2 linked regions of the Homo sapiens genome follow. The protein of the gene in region 2 interacts with the protein of the main gene of each other region in a biochemical or structural test. Each region holds a gene or a part of one and is shown on either strand. Other genes may lie near its edges. The genes, in order: PARP14 and PARP10.

Region 1 (7,346 bases), on a different chromosome or scaffold from region 2:
ATTTTGTCAAAGATTTTTGCATCTGTGTTCATCAGGGATATTGGTCTGTAGTTTTTTTTTGTTGTATCCTTTCTTGGATTTATTATTAGTTTAATACTAGCTTTTAGACTGATTTAGGGAGGATTTCTTCTTTCTCTATCTTTTGGAATAGTTTCAGTAGGATTGGTACCAATTCTTTGAATGTCTGGTAGAATTCAGCTGTGAATCCACCTGGTCTGGGACTTTTTTGTTGTTGGCAATTTTTTTTAATTACTAGTTCAGTCTTGCTGCTTGTTATTGGTCTGTTCAAGGTTTCTGTTTCTTTCTGATTTAACCTAGGAGGGTTGTATGTTTCCAGGAATTTATCCATTTCCTCTAGAGTTTCTAGTTTGTGCATGTAAAGGTGTTCATAGCAGCCTTGAATGATCTTTTGTATTTCTGAGGCATTGATTGTAATGTCTCCAGTTTCATTTCTAATTGAGCTTATTTGGATCTTCTCTCTTCTTTTCTTGGTTAATCTCACTAATGGTCTATGAATTTTCTTTATCTTTTCAAAGAACCAGCTTTTTGTTTCATTTTTATCTTTTTTTGTTTGTTTGTTTGAGGTCTTTTTAAAATAGTTTCTATTTCTCTGCAGAGACATCCTATTTTTCCATTCATTCCACATCATTTCCATCCATTCAAATGTGTTTACTTTGACCTCATGGATCATAGTTATAGTAGATGCTTTAAAGTCTTCTATAATTCACATCTTTTTGGGATTCACATCTTTTTTTTTTTTTTTCTTTTTTCTATGGAGTCTTGCTCTGTTGCCCAGTCTGGAGTGCAGTGGTGCAATCTTGGCTCACTGCAACCTCCGCCTCCCGGGTTCAAGTGATTTCCTTGCTCAGCCTCCCAAATAGCTGGGATTACAGGCCTGTGCCACCACGCCCAGCTAAGTTTTGTATTTTTCTTTTAGCAGAGAGAAGGTTTTACCATGTTGGACAGGCTTGTCTTGAACTCCTGACCTCAAGTGATCCACCTGCCTCGGCCTCCCAAAGTGCTGGAATTACAGGCATGAGCCACCATGCCTGGCCAGGATTGACATCTTTTTTTTTTTGAGACAGAGTCTCACTCTGTCACTCAAGCTGGAGTGCAGTGGCACAATCTCAACTCACTGCAGCCTCAACCTCTGGGGGCTCAGGTGATCCTCCTACCTCAGCCTCCCAAGTAGCTGGGACTACAGTTGTGCACCACCATCCCAGCTAATATTTGTATTATTTGTAGAGATGGGGTTTCACCATGTTGTTCAGGCTGATCTCGAACTCCTGGACTCAAGTGATCCACCCACCTCGGCCTCCCAAAGTGCTGGGATTGCAGACATGAGCCATTGTGTCTGGCTGGATTGACAGCTTTTGATTTTCTTTATCCTTAAGGGTTGATCAAATTTTCCTGGTTCTTTATATAACAAGCAATTTTGGAATACAGACTTGACATTTTAAATATTATGTTGTGAGACTAGGGCCACCCTTGGGTCAAAGCTGGGAGAGAAAAGAGGAAAAATTTTAAAACAGAACAAAATGGAAAACTGCCCCACTTAGCAGATTGCTTCTGCAAGTTTTGGCACCTTTCTTCAATCTGTCTGCTGTTATTGTAACTTTTCAGAGCTCTTGGGTGGTGGCTTTTTGTATTTGTCCTGTTTTTAGTTGTAATCAACGGGAGAGATAGGCTATAGTACGCTAACTTCACCTTGGTCAGCACCAGAGTTCATGTTTGATATGGATTCTATGTTCTAATTCTTTTTTCTTAAACAGATCATCACTGAGGCTGAGGAGCAGGGCCAGGTTAAAGACCAGAGGTCACAGAAAGAGAGGGAGAGGGAAGACATCCAAGAGGGTCCCATGTGAGCAGGATACCCAAGTCATTCTTGCTGTGGCTGACTCGGTTATTGACTTTACTTCTTTTCTTTTCAGGTTTTTATGGGACTGTTTCTAGCCCTGATTCAGGTGTGTATGAAATGAAGATTGGCTCCATCATCTTCCAGGTGGCTTCTGGAGATATCACGAAAGAAGAGGCAGATGTGATTGTAAATTCAACATCAAACTCATTCAATCTCAAAGCAGGTACTTGTACAATTTTGATGAGTGCAATAGTTAATGGTAGATGCTATGAAGGAGGGTTTCTATAGCCAAACTGGTTTTTAGAACTTTGGCTTGTTAATTAATAACTTTTAAATTATGCTGACAGGGTTTTCCATAATTAATAATGTTTATTTTATGAAGTTTTCTTCTTTGTCATCAGCAATACCCAATTAGAGGATTCCTCAGATGATGGAGAATGCATTCAGATAATCCTTCTGATCCAAATATACCATAGTGGTTTTTTACTCATGTTTGTTATCATCTTGATTTTCTCATGTAGGGGTCTCCAAAGCAATTTTAGAATGTGCTGGACAAAATGTAGAAAGGGAATGTTCTCAGCAAGGTAAGGCATATTCTATTTTTTGGTCCTAAGTTGTAATTGTATGGGAGGCTGTGGAGAGGCTGAGAAAAGTCTTAGGGTTGGGGAGACAACACTCTAATTTTAAAATGATACATTTTACTAAAGAATTCCAATCACAGACACTTAGAAGTGAAAAGTAATCTCACAGTTAAAAGTAAAGTTAAGTCATAGCATTCCATCAAAGATAGTATTTCAGGAGTTTTTTTTTTTTCACAAAATGCTTACTTGCCAAGTTATACATTTTGCTTTCTAAACAAATGACGGGTTCAACTTCTACTAATTTTGCATCTTTTTGTCTGTGTTTCCCAGCTCAGCAGCGCAAAAATGATTATATAATCACCGGAGGTGGATTTTTGAGGTGCAAGAATATCATTCATGTAATTGGTGGAAATGATGTCAAGAGTTCAGTTTCCTCTGTTTTGCAGGAGTGTGAAAAAAAAAATTACTCATCCATTTGCCTCCCAGCCATTGGGACAGGTTCGTAGCCTCTGGCTGTCAAGGCTAAATCCCAAGCCATCTACTTTCCCTTTCATTTGGAGCTGAGTGTGAATGCGGTCAGTGCTGAGTCTGACCCAGGGCAGCAACCATTAAGCTAGGAGTGGACAGCTTCCTCCCCATAAGACAACTCCCAAGGGAATGACAAAGCCTGTGGATTGTTTGAGTAAAAGAGGGACAAAATGCAGGAGACTGAAGAGAGTGTTAGAATGTTAGAGAGGCAGAAAGAAGGGAAGGGAAAATAAGGAGGAGAAGAGAAGGGAGAGAGTGGAAAGGCCATCCCTCATTCTCTTTCCTCAGTTACTTTCCCTTTTTCCATTCCCTACATATTCTCCATTATGCAGTCCTTAGCTTCCTCCTCTTTCCCCTCTCCATGGAGAATATTAGTACAACAACTTCCACCTCACTCTAGCTGATTCCCAGAGGAATATTACCAGGCTTCAGCTCAACAGTCAGCTGTGTCACTTGGCCTCAGGGCATTTCTGTGTAGAAGCTTCTCAGTCACCAGAACCTAGTGGGTCAGAAACTCAACTCTCCACTTTCCTCTTTTCAGCCTACTTGCTTCTTTGATTTTCTTCTTTTCCTAAAACTAGGTAATGATAGCGTGATTTTTCATATATAAGGATGGCGCTCTGGATTTATCATTAATTAGGTGGTTTTTTTTTTTTAATTATACTGGGGTACATGGGCAGAATGTGCAGTTTTGTTGCACAGGTGTTCTTTGAGCTCTTTAGGAATCCCTGCTTGGTCTCCTTCAGAGAGCTGGTCAGGGGAGGCATGCATTCTTAGGCTTGAAGTCAACGGAGCTGCCTTGTTCCAGTGCGAGAATAGTCAGCATCGGATCTGTCATTCTGTTGCTCGGGAATCTAAGTTTGAATCTCTTATGCTGGCATTCTAGGCTTTCCAAAAGGTTATCCTCAATAAACTTAACCATCCTTGTCAATTTCTGGGCCTTCTTCTAACCCTCTGACCCATATCTGTAATTCTGTACCATTTCTTATAATGTTCCGAGATGGAATTCTATGTCTATTTTACAACTTTTCTATTTCTAAAAGTATAATTTTTGATCCCTTTGTTTTCATTCCCCTTAGAGTATCATCTATTCCTAGCAGATTAGCCAACATTTCTCCTATCTCTCTCTACCAGTCATCTATCTATCTATCTATCTATCTATCTATCTATCTATCTATCTATCTATCTATCTATCGATCTGTCTATCTATCTCTATCATCTCTCTACTGACTTATCTTTTATGGACACCCACCAATGACTCCTCAGTCTCTGTCTCCATCTGTTTTTTTCTCTGAGCTCTAGTCTTGGGTTTCCACCTTCAGTTGATTTGGGCCAAGAAAGCAAGCAGCTTAGGGGTGCCACAGACCTTCCCAAAGGAGTCCCTGGTAGAGTCAAAAGAAGAAACAAAGAAAGAAGGTAGGTTTCGTTTTGTATAAATATGTACACATTTGAGCATTTCTGGACTCAATTCTGGACTCAACAACAAATCCTGTTGTTTCTTCCACTGACCTGGTTGCATTGCTGGTCAGCACAAATAAATCAGGGTTAGTGGGTTATCCTTGCATGTCCTCTTTACCTATCTTTATCACCACCTGAGCTGGTTCTGAGACTGATAGATGTAGAAGCTTTCTCTTTTAGTGGTGTATATGAGTTGAATTAAGACTGTGATCAAGACAGCCTCTGGCAGTTAAAGGAGCCTCCTCTCTGTTCCTTAAAGACACCTGCATAAGAGGAGAGATTAGGTGGTTAGCAATACCTGTGATCACCTCAAGCTCAACGCAGACTCCAAACTCTCATTCCTTGTCATCTCCCCAAACCTGCCCTTCCTCTTATATCCCCAATCACGTGAAAAACATCACTTTCCATCTAGAGTCCTTGACTCTACCCTCTTCGTCACTCCGATCTTCATTAGCTTAGGAATTATTTGATTGAATATTTACTGAGTGCCTGCATCTGCAAGGCACCATGTTTAGGCTCTGGAGATAGAAAGATAACTAAGAAAAGGATCCAGTTCACAAGGAGCACTGAGCCCAGTGTGAGAGACAGGCATGCAAACAAACAACTGCAATGCAACGTGAACCATGATATAGTGAAGGTATGTGTATGGCAAAAGACAGAGAGGGAAAGGTGAAGGACAAACCCAGCTGGTCCCTAGGTACTCCTGACTTTACTTCCAAAATAGCTCCTCAATCCCTATTCTTCATTCTGGCCTCCTCTTTTTGTTCAGCTCTTGTCTTTTGACTAAGCTTTTATTACAGCGTCCTAACTAGACCTGGGCTCCCCGCTCCATGCTTCCTCCATACCCCTCCAGACTTAACTTCCTCAAAACTAGGTCTGTTCTGCATACGTGCCAGGCTGAACATATACCCATTACATAGTTCCATCTGGCATAGCCTTTCCCTCAATTTTCCATATTTCACCTGTTGATCACCTGTTCATCCCCGCATATCACATCATCTGTGTTCTAGCAAGTGCCTAGTGAGTACCTAGCCAGTGATAGGACATAGCAGATGTTTCTTGAAAGTGAATGAATGTAACTGAATGTGTCCATATAAACTCTTCAAAATACCATGGGAAAATTACAGCTTTGCAAAAGAGAATTTCCCTCGTTCTCTGATCATCTGATTTAAAAAGATTTGAACAACCCCCCTTGGTTAATTTTATGTGGGGTTGTCTACATTCCCACAATTGTCAGCATAGCCAAGTCAAAGAAGCCTACTCTTCTTCTGCAATAGTGGTGGGTACCATCAACAACAATTAGCCAGGTGGGCTCTTAGTCTGTCACATCAGCTTGGCCAAGGAACTTTTACATTGCCCATCATGTGACTTTGCCAGCTGTTATTCACATGGGACTGTTCCCCCAGCTGGAAAGGGACTTTTCATGATCTTACCTAGGCTGTTGCTTTCATGGCTTGAGAAGGAGGATATGGAGTATGCTGAAAACAGGAAACGCTCTGCTTCAGGTGGCTACCTTGAATCCTGCTGGTCAGCTAAAATCTCACTGAGTGTGGAGGGAAAGGCTTCTTGGAGGCTTATAGATAACTTGTGTCTGAAAAATTATAGATTATAACAAATAGCCTGTAGCACTGGGTGTCTTACTAAATTTTGCTTAGTTCAAATTAGGTTCCCAGAGATATCTGGGAGAATAAGGATACATACATAAAATCAAGTGATGACTGATCCTAAAAAAGATTTTCATCTTTAAAAAGTATTTTATGTCAACATATATTAGCATCTGCTTTTTATGAAATTTCAAGGACACTAGCGAGCTAAGTAGAAAAGCTACTTGTGCTCTGTAATAGGAGAGGAGGAACACAATGAGCTGGGATCAGTTGAATAGAGTAGATATGATTGTCAGACACCAAAAGTCAGATTTCTGGGTCCTTTGTTCACTGCTAGGCTGTGGGCTTCCTGACATCCTGGAACAAAAACACTTCATTGCATCTAGGACTTCAAAAGTGTTTGCTGATGCTTTGTTAGAAAATTCCACAATGATGAAAGAATTGAGGAGTGGGCATTTATTCTCTGAGCATTGGAAACCCTAATTTATTCCTCAGCCTTCCACTTGGGGCTTTTTTGTCCTTCAGCAATTTTATTATTTGCTTTTCCAGGAAATGCCAAACAACACCCAGATAAGGTTGCTGAAGCCATAATTGATGCCATTGAAGACTTTGTCCAGAAAGGATCAGCCCAGTCTGTGAAAAAAGTTAAAGTTGTTATCTTTCTGCCTCAAGTACTGGATGTGTTTTATGCCAACATGAAGAAAAGAGAAGGGACTCAGCTTTCTTCCCAACAGTCTGTGATGTCTAAACTTGCATGTGAGTTCTTTGTTTTTATGAAATGCATGTTCATAACGTTGATGTCACATGTGAAATACCTAATCTTCCTTTTCTTTTTAGCATTTTTGGGCTTTTCAAAGCAATCTCCCCAAAAAAAGAATCATTTGGTTTTGGAAAAGAAAACAGAATCAGCAACTTTTCGGGTGTGTGGTGAAAATGTCACGTGTGTGGAATATGCTATCTCCTGGCTACAAGACCTGATTGAAAAAGAACAGTGTCCTTACACCAGTGAAGATGAGTGCATCAAAGACTTTGATGAAAAGGAGTATCAGGAGTTGAATGAGCTGCAGAAGAAGTTAAATATTAACATTTCCCTGGACCATAAGAGACCTTTGATTAAGGTTTTGGGAATTAGCAGAGATGTGATGCAGGCTAGAGATGAAATTGAGGCGATGATCAAGAGAGTTCGATTGGCCAAAGAACAGGAATCCCGGGCAGATTGTATCAGTGAGTTTATAGAATGGCAGTATAATGACAATAACACTTCTCATTGTTTTAACAAAATGACCAATCTGAAATTAGAGGATGCAAGGAGAGAAA
Region 2 (7,149 bases):
CACACCCCGGGCACCGCCCGTCCAGTTCCGCAGTCTCGGGCGTGCAGGGAGGTGCTGTCCTCTCGAGCGAGGGCAGGAGGGGGCGCGGCGCAGCCCCTAGTTCCGTGTGGCCTGCGGCCGGAGACCGCCCCCCGACCCCCACCCCGCAGCGCCCGCACGCGGCGCGCCTCTCCATCCTGGCCGCGGTCATACATGCCTGGTGGCTCCGCTCACTTCAGCTCTGCCGCCGCAGCCAGACTGCTCGGGCCGGGAGAGCGGCGGAGGCGGCGCAGGCGGGGCGAGCCCCGAGCCCCGCCCCGGCCCCCACCCAGAGCTGCGCCGCGCGGGCCCGGCCGAGAGCGAGCGAACGCTGCCAGCGAGATCGGGCGCCCGTGTCTGCGCGGGGCCGCCGAGATCTCGGGAGCGGCGGGGCTGGGGCCCGGGCGGGCGATTCGGCCAGGGCAGCGGCGCACACCTGAGCCCCCGGCGCACGGGGCGGGCCGGTAGTCAAGGAGACGCTGTCTGCGCCGGCGTGCGCGACACGGGAACGTCGTGCGCTCGCCCCGGTGAGCTCCGGGCCCCGCCCCGCACCCCGACGCCTCCTCGGAAGCAGCAGATCCCGCCCCTGGGCCGCGGAGATCCCCACTCCCCAAACAGAGGTCGCAGTCAGAGTTCCCGGGTCCCTTCCGCCTGGGTTCACGTTCACGTTTATTCAAACAACAGAGCCGACTCGGGCGAGGTCTGGGAGCGGCGGGCGGGCGGTGTCGCCTCCTGGGCTCTGCTGACCCCTGGTGGTGGGGTCGGCCCAGGCTGGGACCTAGCCCGGCCCCCCTCGGCCGCTGCTGACCGCCATCCCCCACACCGCCTTCTGGAGCCCGCAGAGGGAGGCAGGGGCGTCCCCGGGGACAGCTCAGGCGGCCACAGTTGGGGGCGGGGAGCATCAGCCTGTGCGGAGCTGGGAGCCTGGGAAGCAGGAGGCCAGAGGGTGGCCCCTTCGGTTAAGTGTCTGGGGAGCGGCCCGGGAGCCCAGAGGGGTCGTCGGGGGAAGCGCGGGGCACGTGCTCGCAGGTGATGAGGTGGGTGGGCAGCGCCTGGGTGTCGTGGAAGATGACGAAGATGCTGGGCTGGCAGATGCAGTCCACGGCGCTGTCGTAGCGCAGGAGCACGTGGCCAGGACCCCGCAGAGGGGGCGCCCGCAGACCGCGGCGGCCCTGCCCGTAGTCGCCAGTCAGCACCCGTGCCACGAACACCGCCTTATGGCCATCGGCGTTGGGGGGCGAGTAGCGGTCCTGCACCGACAGGGAGGCGCGCCTGGCGAAATACACGCCCTTCCCGTAGACCGTGGCTGCAGGGCGAGACGGGGCAAGGTCAGGGTGGTCGGGGTGCGCAGAGCCCCCGCCCCTGCCCGGCTCAGGCCTCACCGTTGCGGCCGCAGAAGCTGCGGTTGAAGCCGTGGGCGCAGATGTCAGGCACTGCCGGTGCCGTCGTGCCGTGGTACAGCACCTGCTCCACCGGGCGCCGCTCGCATCGCTGCAGCAGGCGCTCCCGGTACAGCTCATACTGCTGCTGCAGCAGCGGGTGCGACACGCGCTCCACCTGCGGGGAAGGCCCGGGCCAGGATTAAACACCCTCCCTACGCCCTGGGGCCGACGCAGGGCAGAGCTGAGCCTGGCAACCAGGAGCCCTCTGTTGGAGGAGTCCAGGGTTTGAGGGAGCCCTTGCAGCCCCCATCATGCTCTGTCCAGCAGCAGACAGTAACACCTCCGTGAAGCAAGTGACTTCAGAGGGCCGCTGGGGAGGCCTGACCCCTCCCCCTCCCGTGGAGGTCTGCGGGCGGGCAAACCCCACCCACTCAAGCGAGGCCTCTGCAGAGAAAAGCTGAGCCAGGGCCCTATGCTGCCTACAGGACTTGACTCCAACACGAGGAGATGCCACAGACCTCTCAGTGCTGAAAGACCCAGGTGGGAGAGAAGGCCTCAGGTGACCAACCTGACAGCCCTGGGAAACACTTTTAAAGAAATTTTAAATAGTTTCTTCAGAGAGTTGCAAAAGAACACCATGTCTATTAAACAAAACTAGCTGCTATGAAAAGGAACTAGTCTGAAAACCAGAGTGCTCCTGCATTCAGAAAGGGACGCTGAGCTAAATCTAGAGGGGGTGAGCCAAATGAGGAAGTGGTTCAAACTGAAGACCCAGCTAGCGTTCTAGATGGAGTTCAGGAACTGATGCAGAGTGAGAAGCTAACGGAAGAGAAAGGAACTCCGAGGGAGCAGGTGAGGGGGCCTGAGGTCTGAGCCGGCATAGCAGGAGCTCCACCGGCCGGAGCTCCAGCACACACAGGGAAGACGCTTCCCTGAGCTGAAGGAACATCTTCAGATACACAAGATCCGTGAAATGCCAAGAAGGACAATGAGGAAAGACAACGCCCCTGGCACCCACGTGCCAGGAAACCTCAACCTTCAGAGTGAAAGAAAACCCTGCAAGTTTTTTTTTTTTTTTTTCTTTGAGAGGGAGTCTGGCTGTGTCGCCCAGGCTGGAGTGCAGTGGCACGATCTCGGCTCACTGCAAGCTCCGCCTCCCGGGTTCACGCCATTCTCCTGCCTCAGCCTCCCGAATAGCTGGGACTACAGGCACCTGCCACCGCGCCCGGCTATCTTTTTTGTATTTTTAGTAGAGAAGGGGTTTCACTGTGTTAGCCAGGATGGTCTCGATCTCCTGACCTCGTGATCCGCCCGCCTCAGCCTCCCAAAGTGCTGGGATTACAGGCGTGAGCCACCGCAGCTGGCCAACCCTGCAAGTTTACACACACACACAACAAGGTCAATATGCAAACCGGAAGAAGTCTCACCTTCTCACATTGGGTCTCTCATTACCGACACCAGATGCTAAGAAACCATGGGGGGATATTTTTTAACTTTCCAAGAAAAATATTCTTTTAAGAATGAAGAAAAACAGCAATGTCTTCAAATATCTGAGGAAAAACATATTTTGAACCTGAACACTATATCCAGCCAAACTAGTAATGAAGAATGAGGACAAATAAGGGCATATTAGGACACACGAGAACATGGAAGTTCATACCAACATCAAATTACAGTTGCAAAATACCTCTAATTGTAAAGGGCAATATAAATTTAAAAGTCGGCCGGGTGCAGTGGCTCACGCCTGTAATCCTGGCACTTTGGGAGGCCAAGGTGGGTGGATCACTTGAGGTCAGGAGTTCGAGACCAGCCTGACCAACATGGCAAAACCCCGTCTCGCTGGGCATGGTGGCTCACGCCTGTAATCCCAGCACTTTGGGAGGCCGAGGTGGGCGGATCACGAGGTCGGGAGATCGAGACCATGGTGAAACCCCGTCTCTATTAAAAATACAAAATTTAGCCGGGCGCGGTGGCGGGCGCCTGTAGTCACAGCTACTCAGGAGGCTGAGGCAGGAGAATGGCGTGAACGCAGGAGGCGGAGCTTGCAGTGAGCCGACATCGTGCCACTGCACTCCAGCCTGAGTGACAGAGCGAGACTCCGTCTCAAAAAAAAAAAAAAAAAAAACCCGTCTCAGCCGGGCGCGGTGGCTCACGCCTGTAATCCCAGCACTTTGGGAGGCCGAGGTGGGCAGATCATGAGGTCAGGAGATTGAGACCATCCTGGCTAACATGGTGAAACCCCGTCTCTAATAAAAATACAAAAATAAGCTGGGCGTGGTGGCAGGCGCCTGTAGTCCCAGCTACTCAGGAGGCTGAGGCAGGAGAATGGCGTGAACCCGGGAGGCAGAGCTTGCAGTGAGCTGAGATTGCACCACTGCACTCCAGCCTGGGCTACTGAGTGAGATTCCGTCTCAAAAAAAAAAAAAAAAAAAAAAAAAAAAAAAACCATCTCTACTAAAAATACAAAAAGTAGCTGGGTGTGGTGGTGTGTGCCTGTAATCCCAGCTACTTGGGAGGCTGAGGCAGAATCACTTGAACCCAAGAGGTGGAGGTTGCAGTGAGCCGAGATCATGCCACTGCACTCTAGCCTGGGCAACAGAGAGAGACACTGTCTCAAAAAAATTATATATATAAATGTATATATTAATATATAAATGTATATGTTTAAACATATATGTTCACATATACGTAAATTTAAAAGTCAAATATGTTTAGCACCCACTCAAGGAGATACTCCCACTAAACAAAAGAGTCTGTGCCAAAAGGTGACAAGCGGGGTACTGAGTAACCCGGTGGTCAAGAATGGCCTGGAAAAAATGAAGAAAGTCAAAAAAAGAAAAGCCATTAGCCTTGAATCCTAGAACATCTTTTTTACAGAACAGAATTTTAATAACTAGGATTTCACTTCTCTTTCTATGGCTCAGTGGTAAATGTTTTTTCATTATTATAGTATGTCTACCAACCTATGGCCCACGCATGGAGGCTTTGTGATAGTTACAGAAACCTTTACGACATAATAAAAATAATGTAACTGACCAAATTGAGATGGAAGATGAGGGAGGAGGCAAAAGAGAGAGAAGCGAGGCCCATTCTCCTCATCTTCCATGCGGGAAGGCAAGAAACAATCTCTAAAGCTGTCAAGTGAAAAAAAAAAATTCAAGCATACCATTTAAAGTCATCAAGGTGCTCACTAAATTCAAGCATACCATTTAAAGTCATCAAGGTGCTCACCGGAAGAACCAAGTACGTATAATTAACAAAACCACCAGGATATGAGGTCAGTGCGTCTGGGTGGTGGTGATCCTGGTGGCGGTGAGCGGTGACGGTGTGTTGGTGAAGCTGACGGTGACAGTGGTGATGCTAATGGTGGTGATGATGGTGGCCACGGTGGTGGTGGTAGTGGTGGTGGTGATGGTGGTGACGACAGTGAGTGGTGAAGGTGATGGTGATGATGGTGGTGACGACAGTGAGTGGTGAAGGTGATGGTGATGATGGTGGTGACGACAGTGAGTGGTGAAGGTGGTGGTGATGATGGTGGTGACGACAGTGAGTGGTGAAGGTGGTGGTGATGATGGTGGTGACGACAGTGAGTGGTGAAGGTGGTGGTGATGGTGGTGACGACAGTGAGTGGTGAAGGTGATGGTGATGATGGTGGTGACGACAGTGAGTGGTGAAGGTGGTGGTGATGATGGTGGTGACGACAGTGAGTGGTGAAGGTGATGGTGATGATGGTGGTGACGACAGTGAGTGGTGAAGGTGGTGGTGATGATGGTGGTGACGACAGTGAGTGGTGAAGGTGGTGGTGATGATGGTGGTGACGACAGTGAGTGGTGAAGGTGATGGTGATGATGGTGGTGACGACAGTGAGTGGTGAAGGTGGTGGTGATGATGGTGGTGACGACAGTGAGTGGTGAAGGTGGTGGTGATGATGGTGGTGACGACAGTGAGTGGTGAAGGTGGTGGTGATGATGGTGGTGACGACAGTGAGTGGTGAAGGTGGTGGTGATGATGGTGATGGTGATGGTGGTGGTGATGACAGTGAGTGGTGAGGGTCATGGTGATGGTGTGATGGTGGTGGTGATGGTGATGGGGTGATGGTGATGATGGTGGTGATGATGGTGGTGAGGGTCATGGTGATGGTGTGATGGTGGTGATGATGGTGGTGAGGTCTGGGGACAGCCAGAGGTTCTTTTTGCATTTCTGACCAGCTCCTGGTGGAGGGTGATGCTGCTGGCCCCACGCACAACTTTGGGCATCAAGAGTTGAGAGTGCCCCGTGCAAGGCCGGGCGCGGTGGCTCACGCCTGTAATCCCAGCACTTTGGGAGGCCGAGGCGGGCGGATCACGAGGTCAGTAGATCGAGACCATCCTGGCTAACATGGTGAAACCCCGTCTCCACTAAAAATATTTTTTAAAAAATTAGCCGGGCGTGGTGGCAGGCGCCTGTAGTCCCAGCTACTTGGGAGGCTGAGGCAGGAGAATGGCGTGAACCCGGGAGGCGGAGCTTGCCGTGAGCCGAGATCGTGCCACTGCACTCCAGCCCAGGAGACACAGCGAGATGCCGTCTCAAAAAAGAGAGTGCCCCGCGCAGTGTCATCAGCACAGTGACCGCAGCGAGCCCGGGCCTTTCTGTGGAGGCAGAAGAGCGCCCAGAACAGCACAAGGGACGCATCTGTGGAGCGAGTAATCCTCAAAATGACCACAAGATGGCATCACCGCCCCATGCTCCAAATAAGGAAACTGAGGCCTGGAGCTGGTCCCATAGTCCCTGCTGACCCAGCCACGAGTGGCAGAGTGGGGACCCTCACTCAGGCCTATCAGATCCCAAGGCCCCCACTCTGTTCCCTCCTGTTTCCCTACCCACTTTGGGAACGCCCTCTGGGCAGAGAACAGGGCTGGGAGCCTGTCAGCTCCTGGTCAGCTGACCTTGATGTAGGCGAGAGGGACAGGCCACAGACTTGGCAAGGCGCTAATGGTGCAAGAGCCCAGGACGCCATGAGGCCAGAGAGACAGGGCATGGACTCACACGAACGACGCGGATGCTGCTGCGGGCAGCGTCCAGGGTGTCGTAGAAGGCCCGCACCACCTCCTGGAACTCCCCGGTGTTCTCTGCCAGACGCTCCAGGTTGTTCCAGGGCCCCTTCAGCGTCTGCCCCGCCACTGATGCATGGGGAAAAGCGGGGGGTCAGAGCCATGCCTGGGGCACTAGCCCCTGCTAACCAGCCCACCCCACCGTCCCTCAGTCCAGGAGGTAGACTCACAGGTAGGGCCTGAAGCTGCCAAGGGAAAGGCCAAACTCTGATCCCAGGGGCCAGCCAGAAGTGCCACCAAGTGGCGGGCAGCACGGGCAGGGTGGGCCCCGAAGCCACGGAGGATGGTGCAGTCACCACGCAGGGCAACACTCACACCATGGCACCGCTCCAGGCGAGCACGCAGCTCTGCAGGCAGTGTGCGGCGCCAGGGCCCCACCGTCTCCTCCTGGACGTGGACCTCCAAGGCAGCCCTGAGCGCCCGGTCCAGCTCCTCCACATCCTGCTCAAAGGCCGAGTGCACCACCAGCTGGGCCTTGCCATCAGTCCCCCCATCTGGGGGCTCTTCTGCCTCCAACGGGGGCTGCTCCAGCAGGGAGAGGGTTAGGGCTTGCCGCAGGGCAGCAGCCTCCTCCTGCTCAGCCACCTGACCTTGAGGCTCCAGTGACCGGTGGAGGGCCAGCTGCAGAGCGGCCTCCTCCTCCAGCCACCTGGGTGCCA

The links.
Region 1: the proteins of PARP10 (region 2) and PARP14 form a complex in vitro, tested with the Homo sapiens proteins (one study listed by BioGRID).

What each region holds. Positions count from the first base shown.
Region 1 is NC_000003.12:122,711,493-122,718,838, forward strand, and holds part of PARP14 (protein mono-ADP-ribosyltransferase PARP14), read left to right. Parts: intron 1-1,772; coding exon of another isoform or gene 1,773-1,783; exon of another isoform or gene 1,784-1,931; coding exon 1,932-2,081; intron 2,082-2,379; coding exon 2,380-2,442; intron 2,443-2,769; coding exon 2,770-2,937; intron 2,938-6,578; coding exon 6,579-6,785; intron 6,786-6,866; coding exon 6,867-7,346. UniProt on the Homo sapiens protein: ADP-ribosyltransferase that mediates mono-ADP-ribosylation of glutamate residues on target proteins. In contrast to PARP1 and PARP2, it is not able to mediate poly-ADP-ribosylation.
Region 2 is NC_000008.11:143,976,507-143,983,655, forward strand, and holds the end of PARP10 (protein mono-ADP-ribosyltransferase PARP10), read right to left. Parts: coding exon 6,661-7,149; intron 6,560-6,660; coding exon 6,426-6,559; intron 1,576-6,425; coding exon 1,401-1,575; intron 1,325-1,400; coding exon 978-1,324; 3' UTR 652-977; downstream 1-651. UniProt on the Homo sapiens protein: ADP-ribosyltransferase that mediates mono-ADP-ribosylation of glutamate and aspartate residues on target proteins. In contrast to PARP1 and PARP2, it is not able to mediate poly-ADP-ribosylation.